2 separate regions of the Homo sapiens genome follow, and region 2 is linked to region 1. The links come from fine-mapping of genetic effects on gene expression. A gene starts in region 1. The other region holds a variant in brackets. All regions are shown on one strand. Distances are from middle to middle. Region 1 holds the start of SECTM1 (secreted and transmembrane 1). Region 2 has its middle 7.8 kb from the start of LINC01970.

Evidence for each region. PIP is the estimated chance that this variant, and not a neighbour inherited with it, causes the effect.
Region 2: its variant is fine-mapped to the expression of SECTM1 in whole blood (INTERVAL, PIP 0.97).

Annotation. Positions count from the first base shown.
Region 1 is chr17:82,331,051-82,336,411 of GRCh38, forward strand. SECTM1 (secreted and transmembrane 1) reads right to left here and starts at 2,716. Exons shown (of 5, transcript NM_003004.3): 1 at 2,650-2,716. RefSeq lists a silencer at 1,059-1,343 and enhancers at 1,220-2,022, 4,070-4,139.
Region 2 is chr17:82,297,954-82,303,314 of GRCh38, forward strand. No RefSeq gene overlaps it. Among named protein-coding and RNA genes, the nearest start is that of LINC01970, 7.8 kb to the left of the region's middle. RefSeq lists enhancers at 1-615, 2,785-2,854, 3,055-3,134, 3,145-3,194, 3,205-3,264 and 2 more. The variant C/T (reference allele first, on the strand shown) is at 2,923.

The DNA of each region.
Region 1 (5,361 bases):
CCAATGTTGGCGACCCTGACCCTTGTCCAGCCAGGGGTGAAGGGCGGCAAGGGATGGGCTGGAGGGTACTAGGAGCAGGTGGCGGTGCCCTTCCTGTCGGTCCACACCCGGCAAGTGGCGGGAAAGGTGTGGAATGAGTCAGCCGTGGAGGGGAGCCCTGGGCCTGGAAGACCCCTGTCTTTGGCTTGAGAATGACTTTGAAGGGCTCAGGGGGTAGGGAGCTGGGGGGAGACCGGGAGGAGAGCGGCAGGTCTGGCTCTACCCCGAGGCTTCAGGCTGCGGACCATGCGTGGCCCCAGCTCTGTCTGGGCAGCAGGTGTCAGCGACTTTGGGTTGCTGTGGGAATTTGCTCCGTTTATCAGAAGAAAACGCACCCTGGCAACACAGGCCCCTCTCAGGTCACCAGGCACATCTGGTCACATCTGAGTCTCAGATAAACAACCAATGATGTCCTGGTGAAAGCTTGTCCCGTGGGACACTCGGGACACACTTATATTAAAACACGATTAACGATCTCAAACTCAGATGTTACTGGGTATCCTGCGTTTTTGTTGGCAGCTCTGCCACTCTGCCCGTCTGCCTGAGTCCTCTCCTGCCATCCTCCTGACCAGAGGCGTGGGCTTGAGTTGAATGCCACGCAGTGGCTAAAAATCAGAGAGAGGGCAGGCGGCAGGGCGCGGCCCCAGGGAAAGTGGCCAGGTGGGCGGTGACTGGCCGGGCAGCTCCGTGTGTGGCACAGGGAGACCTGGCACAGGGAGACCAGGTACAGGGAGACGAGGCGCACGGAGCCTCAAAACTTCTAGAGTGGGCCGGGCGCGGTGGCGCATGCCTGCAATCCCAGCACTTTGGGAGGCTGAGGCAGGTGGATCACCTGAGGTCGGGAGTTTGAGACCAGTCTGAACAACGTGGTGAAACCCCGTCTCTACTAAAAATACAAAAAAATTAGCCGGGCGTGGTGGTGCACGCCTGTAATCCCAGTTACTTGGGAGGCTGAGGCAGGAGAATCGCTTGAACCAGGGAGGTGGAGGTTGTGGTGAGCCAAGATCTGGCCACTACATTCCAGCCTGGGCAACAAGAGCGAAACTCCGTCTCAAACCAAACAAAACAAAAAACAAACTTCTAGAGCGGGAAAAGATGGAGGCGGCAATCAGATTTCTCTCAAACCACGAACACAGGGGTCGGTATCTGAGGCGCCGGCACCAGACACGGCAGGGTCTGAGTGCTCCCTGACAAGCGATGATGCGCAGGCTTGGAGCCATGCCAGTGACACGCCTAGGAAAGTTCACGCACCGCCCAGCACGCCTGCGCATGCCTGTTCCCGCTCCCTGGTGCCCCGGGCGCCTGCCTGTCCCGGCTCCCATGGGTGCTGGGTGTGTGGAAGCTCCGGCCCCCTCGGGCTGGGTTCATTGGGGTCCTCCTGTGTGGTCAGTGGACTCTGTACCCCCACAGCACCTGAGGGGTGGCTGACACTGCTTTCCCAGCTGCTGCAGGGGCTCAGGGAACACAGGTGACCCCACGTCTCTACCGAGAATGAGCACACCAACACCTCTCAGAAGACAGCTGCAGCCTGCAGAGGCCATGGACCCCACCCAGGCCCACGGTGTGGACGGCTCTGCCCTGGTCTCTGCTGAGCCAGGCCCAGAGGGGACCCCAGGTGAGCAGCAAAGCCCCCCAGGCCTGGGGCTAGACCGGGCTAACCCTTCCTGCTCAGCACCTGTTCACCTGTCCCCTCTGCTGGTGGCCTCCTGTCCTCCCGCTCTGGGCTCAGCAGCAGCCCCGTGGAGAGGCCCTGCCACCACCCCCGCCCTGCTGGAGACAGGCCTCCTACGCGGGCTCCTGCAGCCGGTCGCCCTGGGCCTCCTAGAAGCCGGGGATCCTCTGCTGACCACCGGCAGAAAACGTGCTTCTCAAGCTGCAGGTGATTCACCAGTAGTGGGCAAGGAACTGAATGTGGTGATTACTGCGGAGTCAGCAAAACCCGCGTGAGAACGGGCAGCTGAGGGCCTGCCGGGTGAGGGAAGCCTCACGGTTCCTGTTTCATGAGTTTGCTGTGAGTGCACACGAGGCTGTGGCTGTGGAGTGTGCAACAGTCCACGCGTGCCTGCGTGTGCTCATGTGCGTGTGTCCACCAGCTTGTGTGCACGCATATGAGCGAGTGCGTTTTGCTCCCAGCTTGGTCGCAGCGACGGCGCAGGGAACCCCGGGTGAGGCCGAGGACCGGGAAGGGAGGAGGGGGCTCCGACCCATCGGACTTAGGGGAGCCCCGGGTCCGAGACGCCGCCTCTGTCCCTTCAAGAGTCGAGCCTGGCGCACAGGGCAGGGACGCGGGTCCCCACACCGGCCGGCAGCTCGTTCCCGCCCATACTCGGGTACGCCCGCTGCGACCCCGCCCGCCTGGCCTGCGACGCACGCTCAGGGCCAGCGGGGGGTGACGGTCCCAGAGGCAGAGGCGCCGCAGCCCCAGAGTCCCCATCCCTGCGCGGACCGGCAACCCCAGTGCACCAAGAGGCCCTAACACCGAGCCCCCAGCACCGAGTCCCCAGCACCGGGCCCTCAGCACCGAGTCCCCAGCACCGAGTCCCCAGCACCGAGTCCCCAGCACCGAGCCCGCCCCTCTGGTTCCCCCGCCCGCCCCTCTCCGCGCCTCACCGGGTCCGCTCCTGGACGCGCTCCTCTGGGATGCAGCTTCTCCGCGCCCCGGAGCCCCAGGAAAATGAAAGACACGAGAGGGAGGGGCCAGGGAGGAGGCGGCGGACCCGCGCGGGACCCACCTCCCAGATGAGGAAGGAGCTGGGTTTACGGGAAGCCTCCAAGTTTCGGGAACCACCCGCGTTCACAACAAGCGTGACGGTGAATTTATTATTTTCACGGGAGGCACCGCACCCGCGGTTCACGCTAAAGGAAGCAGGAAAGCCGCCGGGAGCATTTTTCCAGGAGAGTTCGTGCCTGGGCGGGTCCAGCTCGCGTGCGGCGCGCGTTCCCCGCGGGGCTGTTTGGCTCCGCTCCTGGAGGCCTCGAGTCTGTGCACGGGGCGAGCTGGGCGGGCCGAGTGGGCCGCGGGGAGGGAGGGCGGGGGGCGGCCCCCAGATGCCTGGGAGTGCGCGGGCAGAGTGAGCTGGACCCCCGGAGGGTCAGAGGCCCTTTCATAAAAGCGCGCAGAGCAGAGGAGTGATGTCCCCCAGCTCCCCCGCAGAGGGTCCTGCACCTGCGGCCTGGGCCTTCAGGCGTCCTGCGGCCCCTGCGGAGGTGCTGGCCTGGCCAGCCCGGGAGGAGGGGCCCAGCCTGTTGGGGCAGGAGATTGGGGTGCGGGTAGAAGGCTCCAAGACGCATCCGGGCCGGGAACCCACAGACATCCCAGGTGGGCAGGAGGTGGCTCGAGGAGGCCTGGAGGACCCGGCGCCTGGCGGGGTGGCAGGCGGGCCACGTCCTCCACTAGAACCCGAGGGGGCACGCGGGCAGGTGCGGGCGGGGTCAAGGATGACCAGGTATCTTCGGGACACTAGGAGGAGGCCCCACAGGCTGCAGTCACGTGAGTGGGCAAGTCCCCACCGGGCAGATGATGGGGGACACTGGGGCGTGGGCAATGCCCCCAGTTTCATGGAAGAGAGGAAGAAGCAGAACCAAACTCCGGGAAACCCTCAAATGTGGGGAATGGACGGAGCAGGGCCAGACTGGACGCTGAACCTTGGAGCCTGCAGCTCAGCCATCAGACCCAGGGTCCAGAGGTGGGTGGCACAGAACAAAGTCCCCCGGGATGTTCCAAAAGAGAAACTGTCGCCAAATTGGCAGGTGAAACACAGCCTGTCATCCTCCCAGCAAGACGGCACCATGGCCGGGGCACAGAGGTCAGATTCCCCAGCCCCCGCCCTCGGGGAAACCCCAGCCACCCTGGCTGCCAGTGAGATGCTGGAGAGGGGGCTGAAATCCCACCTGCCCACGTCCTCTGCACAGAGGGGCTTGTCCCCGAGGCCACATCCCCCAGCAGCCACAGCTTCCTTCTCCTTTTTTCCTGCCTACTAGATCTCTCAACTCAGAGGGGGCTGCAGTTCCTGGGGGCAGGGGGGTCCGGCTGCTTAGGCAGGAGCACCTGCACCGTGAGGCTCTGGAGGGCAGCTGAAGGCTGGCAGGCTTTTGTCCCGTGAGGGGACACCACTGGGGGTTGGAGGAAAACGCATATCCTGATAAAGCATTTCATGTTGTGAAAGTGAAACTAGTTTGTTTATTTTGGAAGTAATACAGGCACAGAAACAAAATAGAATGAAACCAACTGTTGCCTTTTCCTCCCCACCCTGGCTTCAATTCCCAGGTTGAGTTATGGACACTGCCTTACCTATCCTTCTAGAAGTTTTCCTGGTCCATACAAACAGCACAGCCATCCACTCACGTTTATTTCTTTCTTTTTTTTGAGACGGAGTCTCTGTTGCCCAGGCTGGAGTGCAGTGCTGCAGTCTCGATCACTGCAACCTCTGCCTCCCAGGTTCAACTGATTCTCCCACCTCAGCCTTCTGAGTAGTTGGGATTGCAGGCATGTATCACCACGCCCAGCTAATTTTTGTAGTTTTAGTAGAAATAGGATTTCATCATGTTGGCCAAGCTGGTCTCGAACTCCTGACCTCAGGTGGTCCGCCTGCCTTGGCCTCCCAAAGTGCTGGGGTTACAGGTGTGAGCCACCACATCTGGGCAGTATCTTTCCATTTCTTTTTTTTGTTTTGAGACGGAGTCTCGCTCTGTCGCCCAGGCTGGAGTGCAGTGGCGCAATCTCGGCTCACTGCAAGCTCTGCCTCCTGGGTTCACACCATTCTCCTGCCTCAGCCTCCTGAGTAGCTGGGACTACAGGCGCCCGCCACCACGCCCAGCTAATTTTTCTGTATTTTTAGTAGAGACGGGGTTTCACCGTGTTAGCCAGGATGGTCTGGATCTCCTGACCTTGTGATCCGCCCATCTTGGCCTCCCAAAGTGCTGGATTACAGGCGTGAGCCACTGCACCCGGCCGTATCTTTCCATTTCTATACAATGCTGGGATCAGGCATCTTAGAGCGGATGTGTGGATTCATTCACCCTCAGCCTGTCCTTGAATCACAGCCTCTGCTGTGCCAGGTGACATGTGGAGTTTCATTTCCTTTCTGTTCGAGGAATTTGTAGATTTCAGTTATGATTTTCTGTTTAACTCTCCAAATTATTCGGCAGCATATTCTTAAAATCCCCAAGGTCCTGGAGCATTTGCTTTTCTTTTTTTTGGAGACAGAGTCTTGCTCTGTCGCCCAGGCTGGAGTGCAGTGGTGCGATTTCGGCTCACTGCAACCTCCGCCTCCCTAGTTCAAGCGATTCTCCTACCTCAGCCTCCTGAGTAGCTGGAACTAC
Region 2 (5,361 bases), 33 kb before region 1:
GAGCCAGCGAGGCTGGGGAGGAGGAGGAGGCGCTGGAACAGGAACGGCCGGCCGGGAGGGGCGAGGCTGGGGGACAGTCACGCAGGGCTGAGGCGGGCGTGTGGTGCGGGAGCGTGTGTGTGCAGGAAGCTTGTGTGCGTGCGTGTGGGGAGCGGGTCTGGTGAGGGCGCACTTGGGCCTGAGCCCCTTCCGGCCCCTCGTGTTTGCTGGAGGCTGCGTGTGCTGTGTCCCCACCCCAGATGCTTGCCCTGAGGGGCAGGTTTCCATCCAACACCCCGATTGTCTCCTTCAGTAAACCCCCGGCACCGTCTACCCGGAAGTTGTGGGCTGGGAGGGATGACATGCCCTGGGGACTGTGAGCAGTGGAACCCACGTCATTGCAAGGAAATGATCACACAAACACCAGCTCGGCAGAGTGGAACCTTTGCCAAACCTCAGAGCTGCAGCGAGCGGCTGGGCAACCTTCCTGAGGACGGCGCCCCCTCGCCCAGCTCCAAGCTCCTCCCTGTCCCCACAGGATATCCCTGGACCTGGCGGGTCACTCTAGCCAGAGCAGCCTTCCACAGTCCTCCAGGGTCAGAGCTACAGTTGAGGACCCTGTAGGTGGTAGAGGTGCCCGGGGCCGGGCTCTGGGGCTGGCAGAGGCAATGTCAGCGCCTGCCACCTGCGATGTGGCCAGGGAACTTGGGGCTGAGCAAGGGCACAGAGGGGAGAGTGTGGCATGAGGGAGAGGCGGGACCCCGCAGAGGCTCCCACACCTTCCAAGGCAGCAGAGGAGAAGGGGAGGCTGCCAACAGCCAGACCAGGGCTCCAGGGGGGCGGCAGGGGGCCCAGGGAGCTCCGGGAAATGGGACAGCCACTGTCCACCTGCAGAACGCTGGCTTAAGCCTTGCAGACGGGCCCAGTGGGCAGGGTCGTGATTTTCACTCCCGAAGGGCCTGGGGTGACAAGCCGGAGGTCTGGGAGATGGGACTGGAGACCGTGTTCAGAAGGAGGAGCTCTCCACTCTGTTGGCAAAAGCCCTGGAGCTCCAGGCATCCACAGTGACCGAATGTTGGTAAAGTCCCAGAGGACGGGACCCAGGGCATGCCCCTCACTGGACGGTGGCCTCGGGCCCTGCAGGGAGTTGAATGTGGGGTCATGAAGATGTCAGAATTGCGTCTGAAGATGTCAGAATTGCATCTGAGGAGGCAGGTGGGCACACGTGATGCAGGGACACGCCATGCACCAGGGTGGGTTCAGAGCAGCAGAAGCTCTAGGGGGCACCTACAGGTTTCTATAAAATGGGGGATTTAAGGGGCCTTGGCCTTCTGCGACTGTGGGGCTGGCTGAGGAGCATCTGGGAAGCCACGTGGGAGCTGGAGGTCACAGGGCAGGCCGGCGGGAGGGCAGCGGGGCAGGGATTTGGGCCCCATCTCCAACACTGAGCCTGGGCCGGGCACATAAAGTCCCCACAATTGCTGTGGAAAGAACCAAGTGAATGCCTAACTTCCTGCCAGCCTTCCAGGAGTAACTCAGTAAAACAAAACCAACCAACCAACAAACCCAGAAGAGGCCCGAGGTCCATGGTAAAAATTCAAGAGGTGGAAGGGGCTGGACTATGGGACCAAGGTCAGGTCTTTCTCCTTCGAGGGACCAATGGGTGGCCAGGCTCTGAGGCTGCGAGGTCCCCGACACGGTGAGGGGCACGCCTGAGTCCCGGCCTCTGCATCTCCTCAGGCACCTCCCACTTTTCTGGTGGGTTGCTATTTTCCTTTTCTTTTCTTTTCTTTTCTTTTTTTTTTTTTGAGGCGGAGTCTCACTCTGCCACACAGGCTGGAGTGCAGTGGTGCGATCTCAGCTCGCTGCAACCTCTGCCTCCTGGGTTCAAGCAATTCTCCTTGCCTCAGCCTCCTGAGTAGCTGGGATTACAGGCACTTGCCACCACGCCCAGTGAATTTTTGTATTTTTAGTAGAGACGGGGTTTCGCCATGTTGGCCAGGCTGGTCTTGAACCTCGGCCTCCCACAGTGCTGGGGTTACAGGCTGAGTCCTGCGCTGGCCAGGTTGCTATTCTCTTCTTGTGTTGTGTGCATTCCTCTTCTATTCTGTGAACAAAACCTGGTGCAGGAGACCGTCTGTGTTCCCAAGCTGTCGCCAATACTGGACTACGGATTTTTGAAGCTTACAATTTCATGGGTGCAAATTGCACTTTGCATTTCTGTAACAGTGAGTGCAGTTGGGCATTTTCACATGTATCTAAGCTGTTATCTTGTTTGAGACCGGACCGTGCATTCTTCTCTTCCTTACTGGCTTCGGGACCTCTCTGTGTGCTGAGAAGATGGGCTGCTTGCCCACTGTCCCCTGAAGTTCCACACACCGCTGACTTTGGGGTGTGAGCCCTGCTGCTCCCAACAAACCCCAGCTCTCAGGCTGGCTCTTAAAGTCCCATACTCTGGGCCGGGTACGGTGGCTCACACCTGTAATCCCACTTTGGGAGGCCGAGGCAGGCGGACCACGAGGTCAGATCAAGACCATCCTGGCCGACGTGGTGAAACCCTGTCTCTACTAAAAATACAAAATGTAGCTGGGTGTGGTGGCGCGTGCCTGTAATCCCAGCTACTCGGAAGGCTGAGGCAGGAGACTCGCTTGAACCAGGGAGTCAGAGGTTTCAGTGAGCTGAGATCATGCCATTGCAGTCCAGCCTGGCGACAGAGCGAGACTCCATCTCAAAAAAAAAACAAATCCCATACTCTGGGCTTCCTAACCCTGGACTCTCCCCAAAGCATGCAGAACGTGTGGGATGTACATTTCTCTGTGAGAGGGCGACAGCCCTGGGGGGACCTTCCCATTGGTCCATGACTGCCCAGCCGACTGGGAATTCACCTTGAGGTGCCCTGGCGGGGAGGGGGGCTCCATCTCTTGTCAAAAGTCTCTGCTACCT[C/T]TGGGCCTCAGTTTCCCCACCTGTTAGCCCAACTCCCTTCCAGGCCAGGAAGCGCTGGCAGGCGGTCTCCCACCCACGCCCCGTCCCGCCACCAGAGGGCAGGCAGTCCTTCTCGGCTGGGGCCAGCCCGGCGCAGCTGGCATTTCTCCTGCAGGATGCCATGGCCCACCGAGCTGGGAGGCCACATGCTGGAGCCGCCTGCGGGCAGTAGAGGCCTCAGAGGCAGGCCCAACCCGGGTCAGGGCAGGCCGGGGCTGGCCCAGAAGATTTCAGCAGAGAGGAGGGGTTCCAGATGGGCCTCGGGGGAGGTGTGCAGGGCGTGTGTGAAGAAAGCTGCCCCCTGGGACTCTCTCTTGCCCCCGGACGTGGAGAAGCCTCAGGCCCCACAAACCCAGATGTACCCAGAAAGGAGGTCCGGGTGGCACTGAGGTGCCAGGCTGATGGGGGAGGTCCGGGTGGCACTGAGGTGCCAGGCTGATGGGCCGAGGTGGGGAAAGGGCCAGGAGGGGTGAGCTGGGCAGGAGGGGGACCACTGAAGTGCATCCCTGGGGACCCCAGGCCACAGTGCCCTGGATGGCTGGGTGGGCAGTCGGGTTCAGCCCAGACACCAGGGAGCAGGGCCGGAGGGCACAGCAGCGCAGGCTGAGCTGAGGGCTCTCCCTGGGAGGAGGGAGAAGGTGACGCGGGCTTTCTCATCAGGGTGTTGAGGGCAGGGGCAGGGGTGGCTCATGATGGTGGGAAAGGGGCAGGGGCCTTGGAGCCCTGGGTTGGTGTGGAGAGAGGGCCCAGGCAGGGGTCCCAGCGTGCTTGAAAGCCAGCCCTGGGGTGCACACAATGTCCTTCCTGGCAGCTATGGGGACAATGTGACTGGCCACTTCGTCCGTCTTAAGGCCCCCCACTGTGCTGTCTCAAGGCCCCCCGCATGGAGTTTGGTGACCAGGACCAGGGGGTGCATGTCCTTGCTGGGGCCCCAGAGCTGGTCCCGGAGATGGCAGGAGTGCAGGGGCTTCTGGGGTGGACCCCTGCTCTCTGGCCCATGGTCCCCTAGCCCGGCAAGTGACAGCCCTCAGCAGGGAGGTTGGGGCCCACGGAGCTGGGAGAGCAGCAGGGGGCCTGTGCAGACTAGCCCGGTCCCCAGCCACCACCCCCAGGTGTGGGAAAGGCAGGCGCCTGGGGGATCTGAGGTTTCGGTCCTGCCCCGCTGAGGGTGTGGGAGGAACGGTAGAGGACTCTGAGGGTCAAGGCGGTCTCTCCTGGGAGTGCCAGGGAGGGCCTGTATCCTCTCACATCTGGGTGAGAAGGGGGCTACCCCACACGCCCTGTACTCCCTTTGCAGTCCTCTGTCTCCCCCACAGGGACCCCAGTTTCTGGGCCCCCCCTCACTGCTCTTCCTGGACCCCTCTTGTCTTCAAGGAGGGGTTGGGTGGGGCTGGCTCGCTGGGAAGCTAAGCAGCAGCTGGCACTGGGCCTCCGCTGCAGGTAGGAAGTGGTGTCTGCGCTGGTGGGAACGCGGTTTACCCGCCCACACAGGCTGCTCGGCCCTTTCTCCGAGTGTGAGGTGTGCTTGGGGAGGCCGGCGGCCGAGTGGCCAGGCCCAAGGCCTTAAAGAGAAGTGGGTCTCTTCGGCTTCCCAGGCTGGGACTTTGAAGACCAGAAAACGTGAAATTAGGACCCGCCACAAGGAGAGGGAGTTGGAAAAGCCCAGGTCCCTTTGCAGATCACCCCCTTGTACTGAGGTTTCTGAAGCTCGGGGTGAGGGCGGATGCAGGGAGCGGGGCAGCCTGGTCCCAGAGCCCGGGGTCTCAGCCAGGCAGGATCGGCAGTGACCATCTCCTGGTGCCGCCCCGGGACCTGGCTGCCAGCTGCTGCTCCTGGGAGGGAGACTGGGGAGGGTGAGGGGATGCAGCCCCCGACCTGAGCAAAACCACTTCCATGGGGCTTGGGGCCCCTCCCCAGAGAAGCCCTCTTCCAAGTCACCACCAGCGTACGGACCCAGGAGGCCTGAGGCAGGCGGGGCGTCCTCCGTCTGGGTGACCCTCTCCCGGCCTGCATTATGGGGCTGGGAGCGGCTGGGCCCAAAGCTGAAGGCGGTCTTTCGGGTGCTGAGCCTTTAGCAGGGCTGGGAAGTTCCATCCTTCATGACAGAGGCCGTCAGGGGCTGCTGGGGTAGAAACCCAGGCAGGGGTCTTATTAGGACAGGCAGTCCTGTCATGGATGGAGGAGTCCCAGGTAGCTAGGGCGCCTGCTGGAGGCCCCAGGCCAGGGGTGGGCGGTGGTTTGGAGCCCTGCTCCGGGGGTGAATTCTGTGGCAGAAGAGAGACAGAGGCAGGATGCCGCCTCCGCGACCACTGTGAGAATCAGGGAGCTCAGCCCCCAGCGGTCAGCCCCGGCCCGAGTCTCAGCTTGAGCTTGCTGAGCAGCTGGGGGCGTGGGTCTGGC